Homo sapiens: one gene and its partners. The protein of the gene in region 2 purifies or fractionates together with the protein of the main gene of each other region. This does not show direct contact. Each region holds a gene or a part of one and is shown on either strand. Other genes may lie near its edges.

The links. The genes of interacting proteins can lie anywhere in the genome.
Region 1: the proteins of SPINK4 (region 2) and MINPP1 purify together in Homo sapiens (affinity purification with mass spectrometry; 2 studies listed by BioGRID and IntAct, with this or other methods). This does not show direct contact.
Region 3: the proteins of SPINK4 (region 2) and SPPL2B purify together in Homo sapiens (affinity purification with mass spectrometry; 2 studies listed by BioGRID and IntAct, with this or other methods). This does not show direct contact.

What each region holds. Positions count from the first base shown.
Region 1 is NC_000010.11:87,501,026-87,507,913, reverse strand, and holds the start of MINPP1 (multiple inositol polyphosphate phosphatase 1 isoform 1 precursor), read right to left. Parts: upstream 3,022-6,888; 5' UTR 2,999-3,021; coding exon 2,362-2,998; intron 82-2,361; exon of another isoform or gene 1-81. UniProt on the Homo sapiens protein: Multiple inositol polyphosphate phosphatase that hydrolyzes 1D-myo-inositol 1,3,4,5,6-pentakisphosphate (InsP5[2OH]) and 1D-myo-inositol hexakisphosphate (InsP6) to a range of less phosphorylated inositol phosphates.
Region 2 is NC_000009.12:33,235,668-33,243,169, reverse strand, and holds the start of SPINK4 (serine protease inhibitor Kazal-type 4 precursor), read right to left. Parts: upstream 3,004-7,502; 5' UTR 2,962-3,003; coding exon 2,901-2,961; intron 1-2,900.
Region 3 is NC_000019.10:2,338,684-2,345,704, reverse strand, and holds part of SPPL2B (signal peptide peptidase-like 2B isoform 2 precursor), read right to left. Parts: exon of another isoform or gene 6,954-7,021; coding exon 6,864-6,953; intron 6,641-6,863; coding exon of another isoform or gene 6,637-6,640; coding exon 6,497-6,636; exon of another isoform or gene 6,415-6,496; intron 5,882-6,414; coding exon 5,739-5,881; intron 5,630-5,738; coding exon 5,533-5,629; intron 4,808-5,532; coding exon 4,691-4,807; intron 2,495-4,690; coding exon 2,413-2,494; intron 1,741-2,412; coding exon 1,666-1,740; intron 1,344-1,665; coding exon 1,281-1,343; intron 1,153-1,280; coding exon 1,053-1,152; intron 453-1,052; coding exon 375-452; intron 1-374. UniProt on the Homo sapiens protein: Intramembrane-cleaving aspartic protease (I-CLiP) that cleaves type II membrane signal peptides in the hydrophobic plane of the membrane. Functions in ITM2B and TNF processing.

The DNA.
Region 1 (6,888 bases), on a different chromosome or scaffold from region 2:
TCTCAATTAACCTTCCCAACTCTGTATTACTTTACAAAGATTCTGCTTTGGACAAAAACTACTGACAGCAGCACAAAACGCACTGATGTTTTGGGTCTCCTGTGCTTCACTGTGCTGGGCCTGTGAATTGGTTTATCTTTTAACTGAAGCCCCAGATAACTTTCTATATAAAATTTAATAAATTACATTATGCCCCCAATTGGGCAACAAATATGTATTGGAGAAGCATTCATAATCATGCTTCAACTACTGGTGTGCCCTTTACGTTTTTTTCAGTCATATTCAAAACACACATTTTTCAATCATTTCTCCAACAATTTACCACGAAAAGAACACCAAGTATATCATTTTTGTACATAAAATATGAGAAAATTGAATATAGTTTTATCTGGGCTTTGGATGTGTATGCAAAAAAAATCAGTATGTATGTTTGTTTCTCTTGAAATGGATAATTCTGCCCACTTTGTCAACTGGATTGCAATTCTTAAGAAAATATCTTGACTAGGAAAATAAGCGAACTTTGTCACCTTTTTTCTGTGTACACTAAAATATAATTTCCCAAGTGCATCTGGGTATTTTATCCTTGTTACTATCTAATTATTGCTAGTCTTTAAACAAAAACAAAGGCATTGTTCTGTTTCTACAAAACTACAAATCTAATTCAGCAGACTCCCTCAAAAGACCAGATGTACATAATAGGCAAAACTATTGTCTATAGAGAATAATAAAGTGGCTAGGCAAAGGGTTTGCTATCTGACACTGAAAACGGTCAGGAGTGGGCTTATTCTGAACTGTAGTATTTTCATCCCTGGCTCTGTACTGAGAGTCAAATGCCAGTCTTCGCAATGCCATCTGAGAACAAAAATTCACTTGTTCCAGGAAGTCGCTATAGATATTGTGTTATATTAAAATATGTTCTGCTTTCACCATTCTGTTAATTTAACAGATTTATGAGGAATTTTCACTCATGCTAATGGAAAAAGTATATATTTAAAAAAAAACACAGTTCAACAAGTAATTAGACACAAGTCAGCTAACTGAATTACCCACAATAACATGACACAGAATCAGTGGAGAAATCCCTTACAGATGGTTTCACTGTTCAACAGCTACAGAAGAAATTACAAACCAGCCTACTTCTAATTTTTCACTTGGGCTTTGAAGCTAAACAATAATCCTCACTTCAATTCTGGCCTTAAAAGTGATCAAGAAACTATTAATGCTTGCTCATCTCTGTGGTACAAAAATGTTACATGTTTTTATTCTTATTAGGTATGTTATTGGACAAATGGAGGCAGTATAGCATAATGGCTAAGAAAGCAAGCTCTGAATCAGATTTCCTGGGTCCACAGCTAGCTGTATGAAAATGGGCAAATTATTTAATGTGTTCGTGTATCAATTTCCTCATCTTTGAGATAAGGGGAAAATACTATCAACTCCAGATTGTGGTTGTAAGGATTTTGTAAAATAAATGTGAGGCATACCTGGCATACAATAGGCATGAGGTGTATGCTATCATTATTATTTGTAACTATTACAACATTTTCTAAGAGAAAAAGAACCATTCTAGGAAAACAGAAGACTTGGATACTAGACCTTAGAGAAAGACAATTAAGAAGGCATACTCTTGGGCTCGGGTTCTTCACCTGTGAAATAACGGGGCCTTACTAGATGATTTCTCAAATTTCGAAAAAGTGTAATTAATGGAATAAATGAGTTGTTACTGCTTGTGACCACGGACCACAGCTACAACGATGGGAACGCTACAGTAAAAACATGAACAAAACAGAAGAAAAAAGGAGGACACAAAGGCTTGAGATCAGGTTCCTAAAACAGGGTGTAGGTCTAAAACTGTCATCTGAAAAAGATGATGAGTTTAAAAAAAAAAAAAAAGAAAGAAGGAAAAACTAGTATCGGAAGCAAAGCCCGAGGAAGAAAATTCTAGATTCTGTTTTTTAAAACGTGCGCCCAATTGTGAAACTAGACGCCAGGGAAGGGGGAAGGGATGGGTTGGCGCTCGAAGGGGCAATTCAGTTTGGGAACGGGAGCGCAAAAATTGCGGGAGACCTCGTCTGTCCCCTTTCCTGTTGGATCCCCAACTCTACTAAAGCAGGCAGCGAGTACAAGGTGCTGAATTTACACCTGATGAATTAATAAATGAACATACGTGTAAGGGGAAAAAGAGATAGCCAAGTCTGTAATATCCCTCGACAGGGAGGACGTAGCCCGAGGGATGATGGCTTGGGAAAAGAGGAAAGAGAACTGGGGGGCATCGGAAAAGCCCAGGGTCTGGGGGAGGCGGGAGAGCATCCAGGGCGGGTGGGAGGACCGGGACAGCACACGGGCCGCCCGGGGGGTCACCTGCGACGTCCGGCGGCGGCAAGCCAGGGTGGTAGTGCTGCCACAGCCCCTGCAGGAAGGCGGCGCTGCTATCCATGCAGCGGTGCTTGGAACTGGTGATGAGCCGCAGGCGGCCGTAGTTCTCACGGCTGAAAAGGGCCGGGAAGAGCGAGGCCAGACGCAGCGCCAGCTGTCGCATATCCTGCCGTCCCTTCTCTACTAGCTGCCCGTCCATCCAGTCCGCGTACCACAAAGGCCAGTCGGCCAGCGCTGCACCCAGGTCGCGGCTGCCGGTACTACTAGCCCCGCCATCCCTGGACCCGCGGGCCTGCAGCAACCCGTGCAGCTGCCTCAGCTTGCGGATCTGTTTGACCGTGGGGTAGCGGGTGCCGTGGCGAATGAGGGCGACCAGCTGCACCGGGGTGCAGGTCCCCTCCAGCAGCTCAGGGTCCCGCCACGGAGCCTCGGGGCCCGACAATAGCACGGGGTTGACATCCTCGTAGCGAGTCTTGGTGCCGAAATAGGGGCTGAGCGACGAGGCCACCGGGTCCCTCGGCTCTAGAAGAGAGCAGCGCGCAAGCGACGAGAGCAGCGCCGCAGCCAGGGCCGCGGCAGGCGCTACGGAGGTCCGGAGGAGGCAGCCGGGCGCGCGTAGCATCGTCGGGACGGTCAGTGGAGTGCGCCGAGCCAGCTGCAGATGCCCAGCTTCCGGCTCCGGAGGGCAGGGGGCGGGTCTGGAGGGCGCTTCCGGCCGGCGGCCCTCGGGATGCGCTTCGCTGTTCTCTAGGAGGTACCAACCTCTGGCGGTGGGTCTTGCGTCCCGGCGGAAAGCTCCGAGGAGTCCTGTAGACTTGTGGCTCGGGTGGAGCCGGCGGAAAACCCCGAGAAGCTTGAGACAGCCGTGGCTGAGGTGGAGCCGGCGTCGCTGCCCTGGAGCGTGGGCGAGTTTCCTCTTAGCCGGAGCTTCAGGGATTGACTCAAAGACTCCTCCGCTTTTTTAGTTGTTTTGGGTGTGAATACAGCCCGGACTAAACCTTAGTCGCCTAGACTAAACCTTAGCCTCCCAGGCTGCCAAAACAGCACAGCTTTTACAGATGACTCTTACATCACCATCCCTACTCTGTGATACTGTGTTTTTCAAAGTTTAGTGCCTGAACCATCAGCATGAAATCTGCCTGAGACGGTTGTTGAAAATTCACATCGCTGGGCCTTGCGGCAGGATGCCTCTTGAAGCCCAAGGTTTTTGTTTCGTTTTTTTCCATTTGAGTTTGAAAATAAACAGGATACAGTAAAGCAGAGAACTTGGAAAGGGGCTTACATTCTGCAGGAATTTAAGTCCTGAATCTTTGGTATAATCTTGACCTGGACTACCAGAGCTAACGCCGACATCAGTGAGACAGCACCCTAAAAGTTCTGTGCTTGTTGTTCCCGAAGGCTTAGCGAGTAGAGACATAGCAATCTAGAGAATTTGGGTGCATTGAGTCATGGCCCAACAGATTTACTCTATTATTAAGTATGAGCTAATCTGCTTTGCGAAGCAAACATGCTCTGTATTTACCACCACTCCAGATCCATACGTTCCTCCCATGTACTTACTTACATACTCAAATCAAAAGCTGGGTTTTTTAATAGGTTATTGCTCAGAATCTTTGACCCCAAAAATCATAAGTCTGAACAATACCTTGTTTTTTCCCACTTGAACTCCAGTTTATTTGCCAGCTGGGGAAATAATAAGTATTACAGAAGTCGTACGGTGATCCAGATTTAAGGAAATTGGGACCACGTTTTCATTAAGTTAGCTTTTGCTTCAAAGACACTATTACATTGCTCTTTATAAGCCCATCACCATCTTTACTCCTTTTCTCTTTAAGTGTCTCCTTGGTTTAGAGAGGTGTTCCTCTAAGTTTAGGCGTGCCTCTAAATGTTAACCAAGAAGAAACGGGGCCAGCCTATGAATGCTGAAAATTTGGAGACGTTCTGTGCAGGAAACCATCTTTAGGGCAACAGATGTTCTTTTCGATATGCTATTTTGTAGCATGTCAATGCCTGAATATTCATGGTCAGTGATATTTTTGTAGAACTTTGCTCAAATTAGCATTTAGTAAATATCCGCTCCTTCTTAAAATAGACATTCTAACCCGTATGCTCTATAGGCTGAGTCGCCTGATAATATTTCTAAGTGCATTCAGCGAGCATTTGTTCCAGGTTCATCTCACTGTATTTTGCCTAATACATATGCTTACTAATAACTTCTCACACCCAATCTTTTGAGTCCTAGGGGTTACCAAGTGTTCCCAAAGTCATTATTCACTTCTTCCTTATGAAGCAATCTTTAGAGACTCCACTTACAAAATGTATGGCACAGTACACATTTTTATACATGAAATTTGCCCCTAGTTTGATTTTATTTTCCTTATCTAATTCCTCATCAATTAATTTTATCCTGTTTTATACACTTAGGTATATCAGCTCCTAATTATTTTGATGTTATGCCAAGATAACAATGATAAAGTAAAAGTAAGCAATGCCTCCATGTTTTTGGCTAGGAAAAAGCCAAATATAAAGAAGACGAAGAGTGCTTAAGCTTTGGACCCAGACTCTAATTAGCTCTGCTGCTTATTAATTGAGTGACCCAAGTTCTCTGGGCCTTAGTTTTTTTTTTTTATCTGAAAATTGGTAATATTAGAACCTATATCATGGGATTATCATGACAGAGATGATGTATTTAAAATCCATATGATAGGCCGCTATAAATGATATTTTTATCATTACTAATGTTCAGTGTGATTATTCCTGTGCTAAGATGCCTAGCTTTCTAGCAATTACATGGATTACACTTACTCCCACTGAACATTAAAGTGAATGACTTTCACAGGCAACACATGCATCAAAGATCATTTCATAACTTTTCTAATAATAAAAATCCACTCATTTCACTTAAAATGGATATCTTGTTCTTAGAGCACTAAGCAGCCTTTGAAAAAATTTAAAAAGGTCACAGGCCGTGCTCCTCATTTCATGCCAGACCATGTCTGAATTATCTGGGCACTCTGTAAATTGGATGCCCTTTGACATAGGTGCCCACTTGGTCCAATCATGTAGTACAGAGAAGTTTGCATAGTGCGAAACATGGCTATTCCTTTGCAGAGATCATGGGAACATCACCTCCCCTCATAAGAAATTGTGGGTATGGGAGCAATATATTTGGCAAATCTAACACAATACAAGAGGCAGAAAGGAAAATTAATGGTTCAAGGTCCTTGCAGAGATGGGAGAGGACAGAACCAAAAACACAGGTAGAGAATTTGATTTGGGCCAGAAGGAGATGAGACCTTATCTTCTAAGAGAATGTTAGAAGGATGGGTGAACATGGGGATAAATTTGTAGATCTGGCAGGAGAGAGTTCATAGAATTCAAGTCTGATGGCCTCAGTTTCCACAGTAACATAGGAGACAAGTTTGAAAGATGGGGGAATAGGAATTAAGTCTTGAAATGTGAAAATGGTTTGGATTTGCAACTGAGAGAAATGGGAAAGTAATGGGAAAGGATTGACAACTAAGAGGAATGGGAGAAACAAGTAGAAGTTTGTATGGTCAGCTCTGGAGATCCAACTGAGAATGAATTGCTAGTGGTTCTGCAATTTTATTTAGAAGCAAACATTATCTGTTGTATTTTTTCAGAGTGGAAAAGAAAAAAAGTTTAACTTGATGGTCCTACATTAATGGGTCTTGAGTAGAACTTCATTTCTAATCAATCCACTATACGAAAGGATAAGCTCAATTATTTTTGCCAGATTATCCATAGGATTTCAAAAATAGTCATTCAGCTTTTAAGATTGCATGGTGTCAGCCAGGCACAGTGGCTCATGCCTGTAATCTCAGCACTTCGGGAAGCTGAGGTGCGTGGATCACCTGAGGTCAGGAGTTCGAGACCAGCCTGGCCAACATGTTGAAACCCCATCTCTACTAAAAGTACAAAAAAATTAGCTGGGTGTGGTGGTGGACGCCTGTAATACCAGCTACTTGGGAGGCTGAGGCAGGAGAATTGCTTGAACTTGGGAGGTGGAGGTTGCAGTAAGCTGAGATCACGCCATTGCACTCCAGCCTGGGCAACAAGAGTAAAACTCCATCTCAAAAAGAAAAAAAAAGATTACATGGTGTCATATATAGTATTTTAAGTTAACAGCCATCTACTTTACTTTTAAAGAGGTTACTAAGATAGTTTTCTGGGGATGAAACAATAAAGGAAAGGAAACAGCTAAATTCTGTAGGGAAACAGCAAGGCTCTCTATGTAAGCATATACAATACTAAGAACATGGTCTCAGAAGTTAGACTTTCTGGTTTTCAGATTCCAGCTTCATCTCTTATTACCTGTGAAATATTTAAAAAATTAAATTATTTTGCCACCATTCTTTTTCATTGTAAAGTGGGGATAATAATACCTAGCCATGAGACTGTTGAGAGGATTAAACGAAACAGCTTATATAAAGACTTTATATAGTTTCTGCCCCCAAATAAATATCAGTTGCTTTTATTAAGCAGAATTAA
Region 2 (7,502 bases):
CCCAGTAGGCAGAGATTGCAGTGAGCCAAGATTGTGCCACTGGACTCCAACCTGGGTGACAGAGCAAAACTCCGTCTCAAAAATAAATAAATAAATAAATAAAAATAAATTTAAAAAAATTTTTAAATTAGCTGAGTGTGGTGGCACGCACCTGTAGTCCCAGCTACTTGTGAGGCTGAGATAGGAGGATCGTTTGAATCCAGGAGGTTGAAGCTGCAGTGAGCTATGATTGCACCACTGCACTCCAGCCTGGGCAACAGAGTGAGACTTTGTCTCTTAAAAAAAAAAAAAAAGTGTCAGAGCACTGGGATGGGGGCAGGGATTGACTGACATAGGGGAATTTCTGGGGCTATGGAAATGTTCTGTATTTATTTTTCTTCCCTAAGTCCTTGTCTCAAGAGGTCCTGTATCTTGATGGGGGTTTGGGTTACACGAGTGTATACATTGTCAAGATTCATCGAGTGATAAGATTTGTGCATTTCTTGATATTTAACTGTTAGGGAAAAGAAAAGCATTTAAAAAATATAAAGCCCTTCCGTGGTTCCCTGTCCTGATCACTAAGCCTCCCTATGGACCTGAGCTGCTTAGTCTTATGTTTAGGGTACTGCGTAAGCTGACCCTAAACTTGCTTCTTGGGCTGACTTCCCAGTACACCTCTCCATGCCCCAGCTATTCCTCTCTGCTCACGGGTCCTAGATTGGGCCCTGCTTTGGCTCATGCCATGTCCCCTCCCTGAAATGTCTTCGTCTCCGTTCTCCTCCCGCCGAATCATACCCTCCTTTCAAGGCTTGATGCTGCCCCCCAGTGAAGCTGTCCTTGACGTCCCCAACAGTTTCCTGAGCAGATCTGGATGGAGGCTTCTTTCACACCACCATGTACTGTCCCACTCACTGGGTCACCCCGCCTCCCTATGCACCTGAGCTCCTTGGGGTTCCTTTATGTCTGCCTTTGCGCAGCACTTGGTTCAATGTCCTACACTGTGGGTGTTCAGGAATTGAATACTAAAGTGCATTGGTGTAATCCCAGCACCTTGGGAAGCCGAGGCGGGCAAATCTTGGGGTTGGAAGTTCGAGACCAGCCTGGCCAACATGGTGAAACTCCGTCTCTACTAAAAATACAAAAATTAGTTGGGTGTGGTGGCATGTGCCTGTAATCCCAGCTACTCAGGAGGCTGAGGCAGGATAATTGCTTCAACCTAGGAGGCAGAGGTTGCAGTGAGCCAAGATCGTGCCACTGCACTCCAGCCTGGGCAACAAAGCAAGACTCTGTCTTGAAAAAAAAATTTTTGTTTAAATAAAAAAAAAAATTAAAGTGTATTGGGAGGAGGGGGTGTTCAGAACTCTAAGATGTCAGAGTTTCTTTCTGGGGGATGTGGGGAAAAGCTACATTTACCCCCAGGCTGCCCTTGACCTTGACCCAAAATGCCCCCTCCTCACTCAGCCCAGGCAGTAGTCTGAAATGTGCAAAAAACAAAAACAAAAACAAACAAACAAAAACCAAACTTCTTCAGAGCAGGCTTTTCAGTGTTCCCAACTGCTCAAGGAGTAGGTAGGTGTAGGTGCCAGGCTGGGCGTAAGCAGGCTGCTCCTGAACAGGTCCCCAGACCCGTTTCCCTTTCCCCCTGTGCCCAGGTCTGTTTCCAGCTGGGGAAATGGGTGTGGGACTGGCCATGAGGTCAGTGGCCCTGGATCCTGCCAGGCGTTGCCTTATAACTTATGGCTTTTGTCCAGGCGGGTCCTAACTGGTCTCCCCGCTTCCCTGTTCAGTTTATTCTCAATGTACCAACCAGAGCAACCCTTGAAAGACATAACTCTCTGCTCAAAGCTTTCAGTGCCTCCCATTTTAGTCAGAGGAAAAGCCAAGTTCTTATGTTGGCCAACAAGGTCTTTCCCGGTACAGTTCCAATTTGCCTCTCTCATCTCCTCTCCTATCACTCCGTACAATGTCCCCTCCTGCCACACTGGTCTTACAGTACCTCAGTCACTCCAGGCATGCCCCTGCCTCAGGTCCTTTGCACCTGAGCTGTTCCCTCTGCCTGGAATCTTCTCCCAGATATCCACATGGCTTAGTCCCTCATCTCCTTCAAGCTTTGCTCAAACATCGGACTCTCAGAGATACCTCCCCTGATTTGAAATTGCAACCCCCTTCCAGTGCCCATCACCCTGCCAAGTATTTTTTCCTTAACTTTTATCAGCTTCTAACATACCGTTTAACATACATTGTAACCATCTTGTTTATTGCCTTTCCCCTTTTCCTCTACCCCATTGGATTTATGCTCCATCAGGACCGTGCTTTTTCTGTTTGGGTCACTAATCTGTCTTAAGGGCTCAGAACAGTGCCTGACATGGTAGCTGTGAGATTGCAGGGATGGCCCAGATCCTGAGAGGGCCCTGCCCCAAGTATATGTGTCCAGTCCTGGGAAAGGGCTCTGTCGTGCTCACATGGCTGCCCAAGTCCCAAACCACAGCCTTTCAGAGAGATCGGGAGCTCAGAAGACCTCGGCCAGGTCTCTCTTAGCATCCACCACCCTGCACCCAGCATACTTGTCAGTCTCTCCTGAGAGCTGGGACCTACCTGCTCCCTTCTGTCCCCACAGCCTCCAGCCCAATAGTTGCTCAGTGCAGCTTTGAACTGGAACAATGCCCTCTTTTACAGCTGGAGAAACTGAGGCCCCAAGAGGGTAGGGGACTTTGGTAATTCTGCGCCAGTCAGGATTTGAACCCAAGTTTCTTTTCTCCCAGCCCAGAACTTTCCCCAGCACAGTGGAGGGTGCATATGCAGAATGAAGGTACATGGAAAAAGCTGAGGCCTCACAGGGTGCTCCAGGCCCTGCTTCTGCTCTCACCCCAAGCTCACCTACCAACACAAAGCCACAGAGAATCCAGGTTCTGCCCACTCACCCCTGTCCACAACAAGGAGGGCAGCCAAGGCCAGGGCGATTACCCACTGGCGGACGGCCATGCTGATCCTGGGATAGTGTAGCCTGAGCTGGCTGGGGCCTGCGCCTGAGGAAGGATGGGGGCCTATTTATAGTGCCGCTCTCCTAATCTTATCTTATCTAGGGCCAGATGGAGAGACCAGAGTTAATCTTTGCACGCTGACATCCGGAAAGGGCTTGCTCTAGGTGCAGATGCTGAGCTTTTGATGAGATGGGGCTGTGGCCATGGGGCTGGCAGGTTTCCAGAGTGACAAAAAGTTTGGACAACTTGCAAAGCTGACTCCAATCTGAGGGTTGGAGCAAGGAGAGGAAAGTTGAAGTAGAAAGAGAGAGAGTTCAAGGCAGAGAGAAGGGGAAAGAGATAGAGAAAGAGAGAAAGGAAAAAAGCAACTGGAAGATGGCAGGAGGCAGAGAAGGGGGCTGGAGCCTGGATTCCTTTGCCAGTGCCTCCAGCAACCAACTCTGGGACCTCGGTAGAGCCACTTTTCTTAACTGGGCCTCAGATCACCCATGCACGAAGTGGAGATGAGACTTTTGGCTCTGCCTTTCTCCCAGGCTGCTGTGAGGATGGCGGCGGTGATAGCAGACGGGAAAACATTTTGCAGAATATGAAATGAGCTGTAAACGTAAGCAGAAATGATCATTTTTACTTACTTTTATTTCACTTATTTTTTTGTACCGCAAAGTGGGCACAACTAACAGGCAAAACAAAGGCAAAATAAAACATTAAAAGGAAGATGCCTTCTTGCTTTGCAGGTATTATGTGTTCATTTGCTTTTTTTTTTTTTGAGACAGAGTCTCACACTGTTGCCCGGGCTGGTGTGCCTGGCGCGATCTCGGCTGGCTGCAACCCCTGCCTCCTGGGTTCAAGCGATTCTCCTGCCTCAGCCTCCTGAGTAGCTAGGATTACAGGCACCTGCCACCTGCCCAGCTAACTTTTTGTATTTTTAGTAGAGACGGGGTTTCACTATGTTGGCCAGGCTGATCTCGAACTCCTGACCTCGTGATCTGCCTGCCTCGGCCTCCCAAAGTGCTGGGATTATAGGCATGAGTCACTGCACGCGGCCTCATCTGTATCTTCATAGGTTAAATAAAGACAAGATTCTTTTAAAGAAAAATCAGTTTCTAAAACTCCCCCATACTTACATAGTATACATTAATAAGTCATTTGGATATTTGCTCTCAAAGAATTTCTGATATATAAAATACATTTTATTTACATACACGTTTCTCTAATTCATTTAGATCAGTGTTTTTCAGCTCTGTCTGCAGATTGGATTTCCCTGGGGGAGAATTTACAAATACAGATGCTGAGCTTCGCTCTGAAATATTTAAATCAGAATCTGTGTTTTTTTTTTTTAAAGAAAAACTTTATTTCGAAAGATTTCAAGCCTGCAGATAAGTTGCAAGAATATTCCAATGACAAGGCGAAGGATTCTTGTTTGAGGACAGCCCCAGCCAGGTGCGGTGGCTCATGCCTGTAATCCTAACACTTGGGAGGCTGAGGCAGGAGGATTGCTTGAGCCCAGAAATTAGAGACCAGCCTGGGCAATATAGCAAGACCCCAACTCTAAAAAAAAATTTTTTTTTTAATTAAAAAAAGAACAGTCCCTTTGGGGACACCAGCCATCCAGTCACCTCTACAGACCCATAGAAGCCCCAGACCTGTGGCCAAGACTAGCTTGAGGCCCCCAGTGATCCTTGACTCAGCTTCAAGATCCTTCCGTTCCTCCTTAGGAAACTGCACAGTCCCAGGGATGCCTCTGAGGCAGGTGGCAGCTATCTTTCCATTGCTTAGGCAGGTAGAGAAAATATTTAATGATGACTTCCTGTCCTAAAGCAAAAACGCCATCTTATAAAAGGGGAATTGGACTTTAAAGGTCATCTTGGGGCCAGGCACCATGGCTCACACCTGTAATCCCAGCACTTTGGGAGGAGGCTGAGGCGGGTGCATTCACTTGAGGTCAGGAGTTCGAGACCAGCCCTGGTCAACATGGTGACACCCATCTCTACCAAAAATACAAAAAATTAGCCAGGCGTGGTGGCGCATACCTGTAATCCCAGCTACTCAGGAGGCTGAGGCAGGAGAATTGCTTGAACCTGGGAGGTGGAGGGTGCAGTGAGCCAAGGTTGTGCCACTGCATTCCAGCCTGGTGACAGAGCGAGAAACTGCCTAAATAAATAAATAAATAAATAAATAAATAAAAATAGGCTTGGTGTGGTGGCTCACGCCTGTAATCCTAGCACTTTGGGAGGCCAAGCTGCATGGATCACCTGAGGTCAGGAGTTCGAGACCAGGCTGGCTGACATGGTGAAACCCCATCTCTACTAAAAATACACACACACACACACACACACACACACACACACACAAATTAGCTGGGTGTGGTGGCGTGTGCCTGTAATCTCAGTTACTTGGGAGGCTGAGGGAGGAGAATTACTTGAACTAGGGAGGCGGAGGTTGAAGTGAGCCGAGATTGCGCCACTGCACTCCAGCCTGGGTGATGGAGCCAGACGGTCTCAAAATAAATAAATAGATACATAAATAAATAAAATAATAAAATAAAAAATAATGGTCATCTGGGTTTCATCTCCCTTCTTCCACTAGGGCTTTCCTACAGCAGCCCCACTGGGAGGTCATTCATGGTGATGGGGAGCTCACTACCTACCAGTTTCGTTGTTGGATGGCTTCGAACAAAGACAGTCCTTCCTCACACAAGAGGTCTGCCTCCCTGAGAGTCCTTGGGGCTTATAGCTTTGTCTCTGGCCTCCTGTACTTGCATGAACCTCCTGTACTTGCACAAGCACCTTTAGGCTGAGCAGGTCTGCCATCTGCCTGCCTCCTACCCTTGCACATGTGAAGCTCCTGGGCCTCTCTCCATTTCTCATCTGATCACTGACAGGTCTGTCTGTCAGTGTCCCAGGTTACAGTGAGGAAGGGACAGAGGGGAGCAAAGGGATTTGATCCCTTCCTTGTTTTGGACCTTAGATTTCTATCCACGTGGCAGAAATGGCTACTGAACATTCTAGTTGCTGCAAGGAGCCAGGACGCTTGAATTTTGCATCCTTCAAAGTACAGAGTAAAGTCAAGGGCAGCCTGTGGAGTACTGAGCTCACTTACCATCCCAGCCCACCCCAAGGTCTCCTCTTCAGACAAATACCTTCTAGATTCACTCATAGTAACAAACTTCGTAATCTGTCATCCCATCAAAGTGTGAACCTAGCTCCTATATCCGACTGCTATTGAACAGCCCATTAAGGATGTCAGTGCATCCAAGAAAACCTCACCATTAATTCACCATTCATGTATTCAGTAAAAGTTTAACAAGCGGCTAAGTGCCATGCTCCATGCTGAGTGCTTGGATATGGCAGAGAGTGAGTCAGATACAGTTCCTGTCCTCCAGGAGCTTTGGTTAAGTAGAGGCACAGTACTGAACGGGCAGCAGCATTGTATCATCACTGCTGGAGTGAGTCCCATGAACCACACATGCTCTGTTCTGTGAGAGGATCCAAGAGTGACCTATCCATCTGAGATCAGAGACGCCAAGGGCTGAGTGGGCAGGGCAGGCTGTAGCCAAGTGGAACAGTGCTGCAGGTAGAGGAAACAGAATGTGTGAGAGCCCTGAGGCAAGAAGAAGCTTCTCACATCTGAAGAACAGAGAAGCCATGTGGGCAAAGTGGGGCCAGGGAGCCGGGGAGGGCCATGACAGGAGTCTGGAATGGTCAGTGGGGGCTAAATAAGCCTTGATCTCTGCTCCCCTGACCCACATCCCAGCAACCTCCGGCAGTGGAATCCCAGGCACTGACCCCTCAGCCTTGTTTGCCTTCCCATGGAGGGTCTAGGTTCTGCTTCCTACATAGCTCTTGAATCCATCCCTGCCCCTCCACACCCCCCACTCTACCCTAGTCCTGGCCACTGTTGTCTCCAACCTGGCCACCTCAATGGTGTCCTGTCTCATATCCCTGGCTCTCCACCTGCCACTCCAAATCACTCTGCACGCAGCGTCCCGGACAAGCGTCCTAAAGAGCAAAGCTGACCAGGTCATCTTGCCCAAAACACTGTAATGGCGTCCACTGCCAACAGGAAGAAGCCCAAACTCCTTAGCCTGGTGACCACACCCCTTCAACATCTGATCCCAACCCATCTTTCCAGCTTCACCTTCACCTTGCCCCACCCTGGACCTGCACTTCTTCAGTTCAACTGAACCCCTTGCACAATTTATTCTGTCTGCTGGCAATGCTGGGTCTCCCTTCTCTATCCCCCTACTCCCATCCTGTGAAACCTAGCTTAAACATTCCCTCTTCTGAAACCTTCCTAACTGCCTTTCACCAACAAGGTCATGACTGTTGTCACCCACCCTGAATGCCCCACTCGCATTGTGCCTTCTGTCTCCTCCATCCGTGTCTTCCCCCTGCACTTTGGTGGCCCTTGCTTATCCATCTGCTGACTAAGCTGCAAGCTGTCTGGGAAAAAGGACAATGTTTCAATTATCTCTATTGCCCTGGTGCCCAGTCCTGAGCGTGGGACACAGTAGGTGCTCAATAAGTGTTGAGGCTAGGCATG
Region 3 (7,021 bases), on a different chromosome or scaffold from region 2:
AGGAAGAATGAGAAAGAGGGGGTTGCAGGCACAGGCCCGGGGAGAATGAGAAAGAGGGGGATGCAGGCACGGGCCCAGGAAGAATGAGGAAGATGGGGACAGAGGCACAGGCCCAGGAAGAATGAGAAAGAGGGGGTTGCAGGCACAGGCCCGGGGAGAATGAGAAAGAGGGGGATGCAGGCACAGGCCCAGCCACCCGAGCCCAGCTCCCGGAGTGGCCAGGGGGTTAGGGTTAGGGTGTTATGGTTACGGTGTTAGAGTTGGAATTAGGGTTAGGGTTGGGGTTGGGGTTAGGGGTCAGGGTCAGGACAGAGGCTAAGTCGGGGTGGGGCTGGAGCCAGAGAGGCCAGCACGGGCCCAACCGAGGCACTTACCGATGGTGCAGGCCACGAAGTATACCCTGGAGGACTGTACCTGGATGTCAAACCTGTGGCAGTAGGCCACCAGCAGCCCTGGGGGAGGCACAGGGCGGAGGCTTACTCGGGCCCGCAGAGCCTCAGAGCAGGGGCTTCCTGGGAGCGGGCGGGCACCTGAGCACCTGTGGGCGCCGTGGGCCTCTCGCTGCCTGGTGGCTGCTGTCATTTCACAGACAGGCCACACGCTCGCTCGGGACAGGGCTGCCATGACTCTCAGTGGGTAAACTGAGACCACAGTGAGAACAAAGTCCAGGCAGACACACCTGGCAGGACCCTGGGGACACTGAGGCTGCGAGGGTACAGTCTCTGCCTTCTGCAGCAACATGAGCTCACTGGGACCCGGGATCCAGGCCCCAGCAAGGACCCCTGCACAACCCCGAGCAGGATGGGGTGAGGCTGTCTGCAATCGGGGGGCCTTCCCCGCTCCCTAGGAACAAAGGGGGTCCCTACCCCACCCAGGCAATGCCCTCGCTGCCCAGGCACCCAGGCCTCAACGGCCCCAACCTGCCCGACTCTGACCCTCAGGGCTTTATCTCCAGCCGACGGTGTGCGGGCCACTCACTCCCAAAGGCAAACCTCAGCCGCCCGGGGCCCTGCCCCACAGCGTGGACCCGTGTGCTCCACCCGCCTCAGTACCTGGCACCAAAATGTCTCCGAAACCCAGGAGGGAGAAGGGCCGGTCACACAGGGCCAGAGGTGAGGAGTTCAGCCTGGGCACCTTCAGGACCATGGGCAGCTGCAAAGACGGGAAGAGGACAATGTCCTCCAGGACCCTCACCCGGCCGCGGGATGCCTCGAGCCCTATCCGCTCCGCGCAACACCTTGACCCATGGCAACCTGAGACCCTGCAGTCAGAAGACACACCTTCTCACGGGTGGCTGAGTCCGAGGGCCCAGTGGCCACCTCCACCATGATGCTGCTCCCACTCTGCACAGAATGGGGTTGAGTGAGGGAGCGTGGTGATGGGGTGGGGGGGCAGGGGAGTGGGGTGATGGGGCGAGGGGGCAGGGTGATGCGATGGGGGGGTGCAAGGGGCAGGGTGATGGGGGGTGATGGGGCAGGGGAGCAGGGTGATGGGGTGGAGGTGAGCGGGGTGATGGGGTGGGGGGCAGGGGAGCACGGTGTGGGGTGGAGGGGGACGAGGGGGCGGGACGAGGGGGCGGGGTGATGGGGGGGGTGATGGGGCGGGGGTTGCGAGGGGGCGGGGGAGCGGGGTGATGGGGTGGAGCAGGGACAGGCAGTCGCCTACCTTGGTCAGGAAGGGCGTGATGAACACGAAGAAGATGTCGTAGAGGAACAGCACCAGCAGCAGCAGCGTGCAGGCCTGCGAAGCCCACGGCTGAGGGCGGCCCCCACCCCGGCCCGTGCCTCCCCCACTCCCATCTCATGAGGCCCAGCGCCTCCTCCTGGGAGGCAGCCTTTAAAGGAACCTGAGCAGAGCGTGCCCAGTGCCAGGGACGCACCACGCAGGAGGAGCTTTGGAAGCAACATCAGGTAGGGATTTACGGGCAAAAGTCAGGCTTTTAGAGTCTCCACGTAACAGGAAGGCGGGGACGGGAGGGCGGAGGCCTGTGCCACGCAGGGCCGGCTCTGGGGATACAGAGGGCCATCCTGGGCATTCAAATGCCGCTTGCTTGGGGTGCTGTGGGGCCCTCACGGGAGTGCAGCCGCCTGGGGCTTGACAACATCCCCGCACTCCCGGTACCACCTGAGGCCAGTTCCTCCAGCCCTATTCAACCACTCTCACCACCACCTCATCTAGACATGAGTTGCCCCTGCCGGGAACCGCCCCGCAGCCACCCACCCAGGCCGCCTCAGCGGGGGCTTTGGGACCCAATCTTCAAGCCCCACCCTTCACAACAGGCCTAGGCGGCCATCCCCAGGGCAGTGAGCAGGAGCACAGACCTGCAAGGACCACAGCCCCACACGGGCCAGGCTAGGATGAAGGGCCCCCACTACCCATGCTGCCCCGCAGCCGTGCCCTCCCTGCACTCACCTTGAAGGTGGGCAGACGGATGGTCTTCAGCATGTAGAGGCAGAAGGCGATGCCCAGGGCATCCTGGAGGACCCAGGCCCACCTGCAAGACAAAGCAGCATCCTCGCCGGGGCAGAGGCTGGCTGACCACCCAGGACGCCGCCTCCCACGAGCCACACAGGGCCCTTGCTCTCAGCCAGCACGCAGCCCCACTGCCCTTCCACCTGCCCAGGGGATGACTCTGAGGACCCCAGACCTGTGGGAGGACCCCTGCTGTTACAACTCCAGCAGGGCTGGCGGCACAGGCCCCACCCCAGGGCCCACCCTGCGGAAGCAGGTAGAGGAGCCCACCACTCGGCAGCCAGGACAGTGGACACAGGCCTGGCCGGCTGCGTCTCCTCGGTCGCTGTCCCCAGATGGTGGGGCCAGGACGGTGGACACGGGCCTGGCCGGCTGCGTCCCCTCAGTCGCTGTCCCCGGATGGTGGGGCCAGGATGGTGGACACGGGCCTGGCCGGCTGCGTCCCCTCAGTCACTGTCCCCGGATGGTGGGCGTCACGCTGTAGGCAGGGGTCACAGGCTGTAGGCAGGGGCCAGGCAGAGGGTGCGTGCGCAGGAGGGCTTGGGCACTGACCCCTCCAAACTGTTTTTATTTTGTTTTTGAGATGGAGTCTCACTCTGTCACCCAGGCTGGAGTTTGGTGGCACGATCTTGACTCGCTGCAACCTCCACCTCCCAGGTTCAAGCAATTCTCCTGCCTCAGCCTCCCAAGTAGCTGGGATTACAGGCACACACCACAATGCCAGGCAAATTTTTTTGTATTTTTAGTAGAGATGGGGTTTTGTCATGTTGGCCAGGCTGGTCTCAAACTCCTGACCTCAAGTGATCTGCCCGCCTCACCTCCCAAAGTGCTGGGATTACAGGCATGAGCCCCCGTGCCCAAACTGTTTATTAAATTAAAACTTGTGCCACACCAGGTTTCCTCAAAGAACCTCTGGGTCCACAGTGGGTGGGGCTGCCATGCGGTTGGTGCCCTGGGGCAAAGCACAGAACTGCCTCCTGCACAAGGCCACGGCCCCTGCAGCCAGCCGCAACTTCGGCTCTCTCCTGGCCCCACGAAGCCCCAGAGTCCCCTCCCCGCTGGCCCCTGCCCCCAATGCAGGCTCTGCCTGTCACTTGCTGGACGAGTTCCCCAGCGTTCCTCAGCGTCTCAAACATCAAAGGCTTCATTTGAAAATGGGATAAAAACATCTCCAGGGCGGGGCGGCTGCTAACAGCAGAGGCCTCCATGGGAGACGCTGGTACAGCCAATTCCAGGCGCCACGTACTTCAAGCACCCAGAGAACTGCGGCCAGTTATTTTTTCTGATTTTATATTATTTCTTAAATAGGGCGTCTCGCTTGTTGCCCAGGCTGGTCTTGAACTCCTGGGCAAAGTGATCGTCCTGCCTTGGCCTACCAAATGCTGGGATCCCAGGCGTGAGCCCCTGCGCCCAGCTGACTGAGGCCTGCTCTAACTTCATGTGACGGAGCGAGTTTCCTGGCTTGGAAATAACTGAAAAGATTCATTTTCTCTTTGTGTACAAAGGATTCAAAATATTTTCACATCTTCCTTCTGCCAGTTAAACGTGCCGTGGCTCCAATACACACCAAAGCCAAGCGTACTTGGCTGCCTCAGGAAGGCTGGGAGGAAGTGCCAGATGGTATCAGCGACAGCGGTGGGGACCGGGCGGGGACGGGCCAGCTCTGTCCTCCCAACACGGCACCAGGCACTCGGCCTCATGGGGGAGGCCCGGCCAGCGGGAGGCAGCCACAAGTCCAGGCCACGTGGGAGGTGAGCGTGGGGGGAGCAGTGCCTGCCCCACCTCCACCACTGCTCAGAAGCCGCAGCAGTCATGACCAAGAGGACCGGGTGCCCTGGTGCCCACACCCTGGGCCTCGAACCTGCGGCGTGCACGTGGGTGCCAGGAAAGGGACAGCGGGGGACAGACTGTGGCCCTGGGCAGCGATGCCCCACAAAGGAGTCCCATCCAGGCTGGAGGACGTGGCTCCTGGCCACAGGGGCTCCGGCCTCTCCTCCCGGATTCCAGTCAGGGTTCCCATGACACCCGGACAAACCCCAGGTGAAACGCCCTCGCAGCCCTGTCAGAGCAGCCCGGGGCCAGGGCTCTTCATCACGCGGTGCTGAAGCAGCTCCAGGCTGGGGCGGCCTCCAGGGAGGGCAGGGAGTCAGGGCCCCAGGAGCCCTGGTGCACCCGAGGACTCCGCTGCCCGCCGGGGCCCGGGGGAAGCAGCACTTACTGGTCCTCGTTGCGGAAGACGCCCCACACCACGCTGACGGCCACGCAGAAGAGCGCCAGGAGCAGCATACGGGCCTGCGGGCGCTTGTGGAAGTAGGGCAGGCTGTTGTTGGGGATCCTGGGGGGCACGGGGCAGTCAGAGCCAAGCCCACCAGCTCCCGGCCTCATCCCACTGCCCACCACCCTTGGGACCGGCCCAGGCACCCCCTGCAGAGTGGCAGCCCCCACTCTGTTGTCCTCATTAAACTCCACATCCCACACGATGACAACAGTAGGCACCCCAAGGGCAGGGCAGAGCCCGACCCGGGCAGGCGCTGGGGGCCACGGGCTGTACCCACAGAGCCCCTCGCCTGCGCTGCGCCCCTTCGCCCGAGGCCCTGCCTGCTCCAGACCTCCCACCTCCTCACCCAGGGACGGCAACACAAAAAGGTCTCCCCCTGGGCTAGCCCCGCTTCCTAGACCCAGGTCTGACTTTGTTGGAGACCCCCCAGCAGCTCCCTTTACCCCTAAGAGCCAGGCCAAGCTCTGGGCTGTGGGGAACCTTCTGGGTTCCCCGGAGAACCCTGGGGAACCCAGGGTTCGGCCTGCGACCTGGGGCAGGGTTCCTGGGGACAAGGGCACCCTCCCCCCGCCACCCCTGGCGCCTGGCTGCTGGTGGGCTCCATTGATAGCTCGCCCAGACTCCGCCCTGCTCCTGGGCCTAGGAGCCCCAGGCCAGCACTGAGGGAGCGCCTGCTGTAGACTCTGAGCAATATTGCACCATGGGGGGCTATGGGGCGGCAAAGGGGCCGTGGCCATCACCGCACAGAGTCAGGCACGTCGGGGCCAGCAGGGCAGACTCACCTGCACTTGCCGAAGGGCAGCCGCCGCACACAGGGCGCCAGGCAGCTGTAGAGGCCGGTGGCGGAGGCCAGGCAGAAGATCCCGATGACCACGTACACTGCAGGGGCAGGGCCGTGAGGCCGGGGGCCAGGCCCGCACGCCACCCTCCCTCCGCACGGGGCGGGCTGCATCTCCACGCCGCGGCCCACCCGCCCGGGGCCGCGCACCGAGGAGATCGTAGAAATAGTAGAGCAGCACCAGCATGGAGCAGCACATCACCACAAACACGCAGGTCATCACCGGCGTCACGTCCACCGCCTCGTCCTCCTGCTTCTCGGGCCCATCGTCGCGCTTGTGCTTCATGTACCTTCTTGGGAGACACCATGGGGTCGTGGGGCCCTGGGGCCGGCTGGCCGACACGGGGCTCGGGAGCCCACAGCCACCCGGGGGAACGGGGCAGAAAACCCGGGAGCAGGAGGGGACCCGGGGGGGACTGAAGTGCAAGGAACCGCCCCGAACGTCCCCAGGGCAGAGGAGACCACACAGCAGAGGGTGGCAGGGCCCGCGTCCCTGGGTTGAGCTGGGGTGGCCACTAGGCCGGGCCAGAGGCTGGCGTGTGGGCAGCAACCGCAGCTTGGATCTGCATAAAGAGCCCTGGACATGGGGCCTCCCCAGACCCAGGCGGCTCAGCAGGAAGAGGGTAGCTGGCCCCAGCCACCTGCCCAGCCCTGCACCTGCCACGCCCGTACCTGCCACATCCACACCTGCCCAGCCCTACACACCCACCAGGTGCCCGGAGCCCACCCTGGCAGGAAAAGAGACTGATTCTGTCCCAGGACCTCCTGAGGAAGAAACGAAGGGCTCCACGGGGCGAGCCGTGCCTGCCGAGGCCAAAGCACTCACTGCTGTTCTGGAAGACTGGCCGTCCCGGCCCGTGTCAGAGCCGCCCGACCCCGTCACAGCACACGCACGATGCGAAACTCACTTCTTCACGTCCCGACTCCCGGCCCAGTAGCCGCCGATGGCGACGGTGCCCACAGCCATGATGAAGATGATGACCATGTTGTAGTCCAGCACCGGCTCCTTAGGCGCATACAGCGCCGCCCTCACCGTGCGGCCGAAACGCTGCCTCAAGGAACACACCGGAGGCAGGCGTCAGAGCCACCCGCCAGCCATGGGTCGACGTGCAGCTGTGGGCTGTGGGGCTGGGGCTGGAGACCCTGGCCTGCAGGGGCCACGCCTCACCCACCACCCTGATCCCACCAACTGAGGCACAAACCCCCCCGGCAGCCAGCCCGAAGCCCCCTGCCCCATCTCCTCGGGAGCGTGGGTCTGAGCCGGCGCAGACCTACCGTGAAGATGTCCAGCATGTCTTTGTAGCTGAGCAGGGCCACGGGAATGCCAATCTCATCATACTGCGTCTTATTACCCCCCGGGGGGACCTGGGGGCCCAGAGGAGGGAGCGGCAGGCATCACCCGCAGCAGTGGGTGGGCCCCCAGCTCTGTGCCC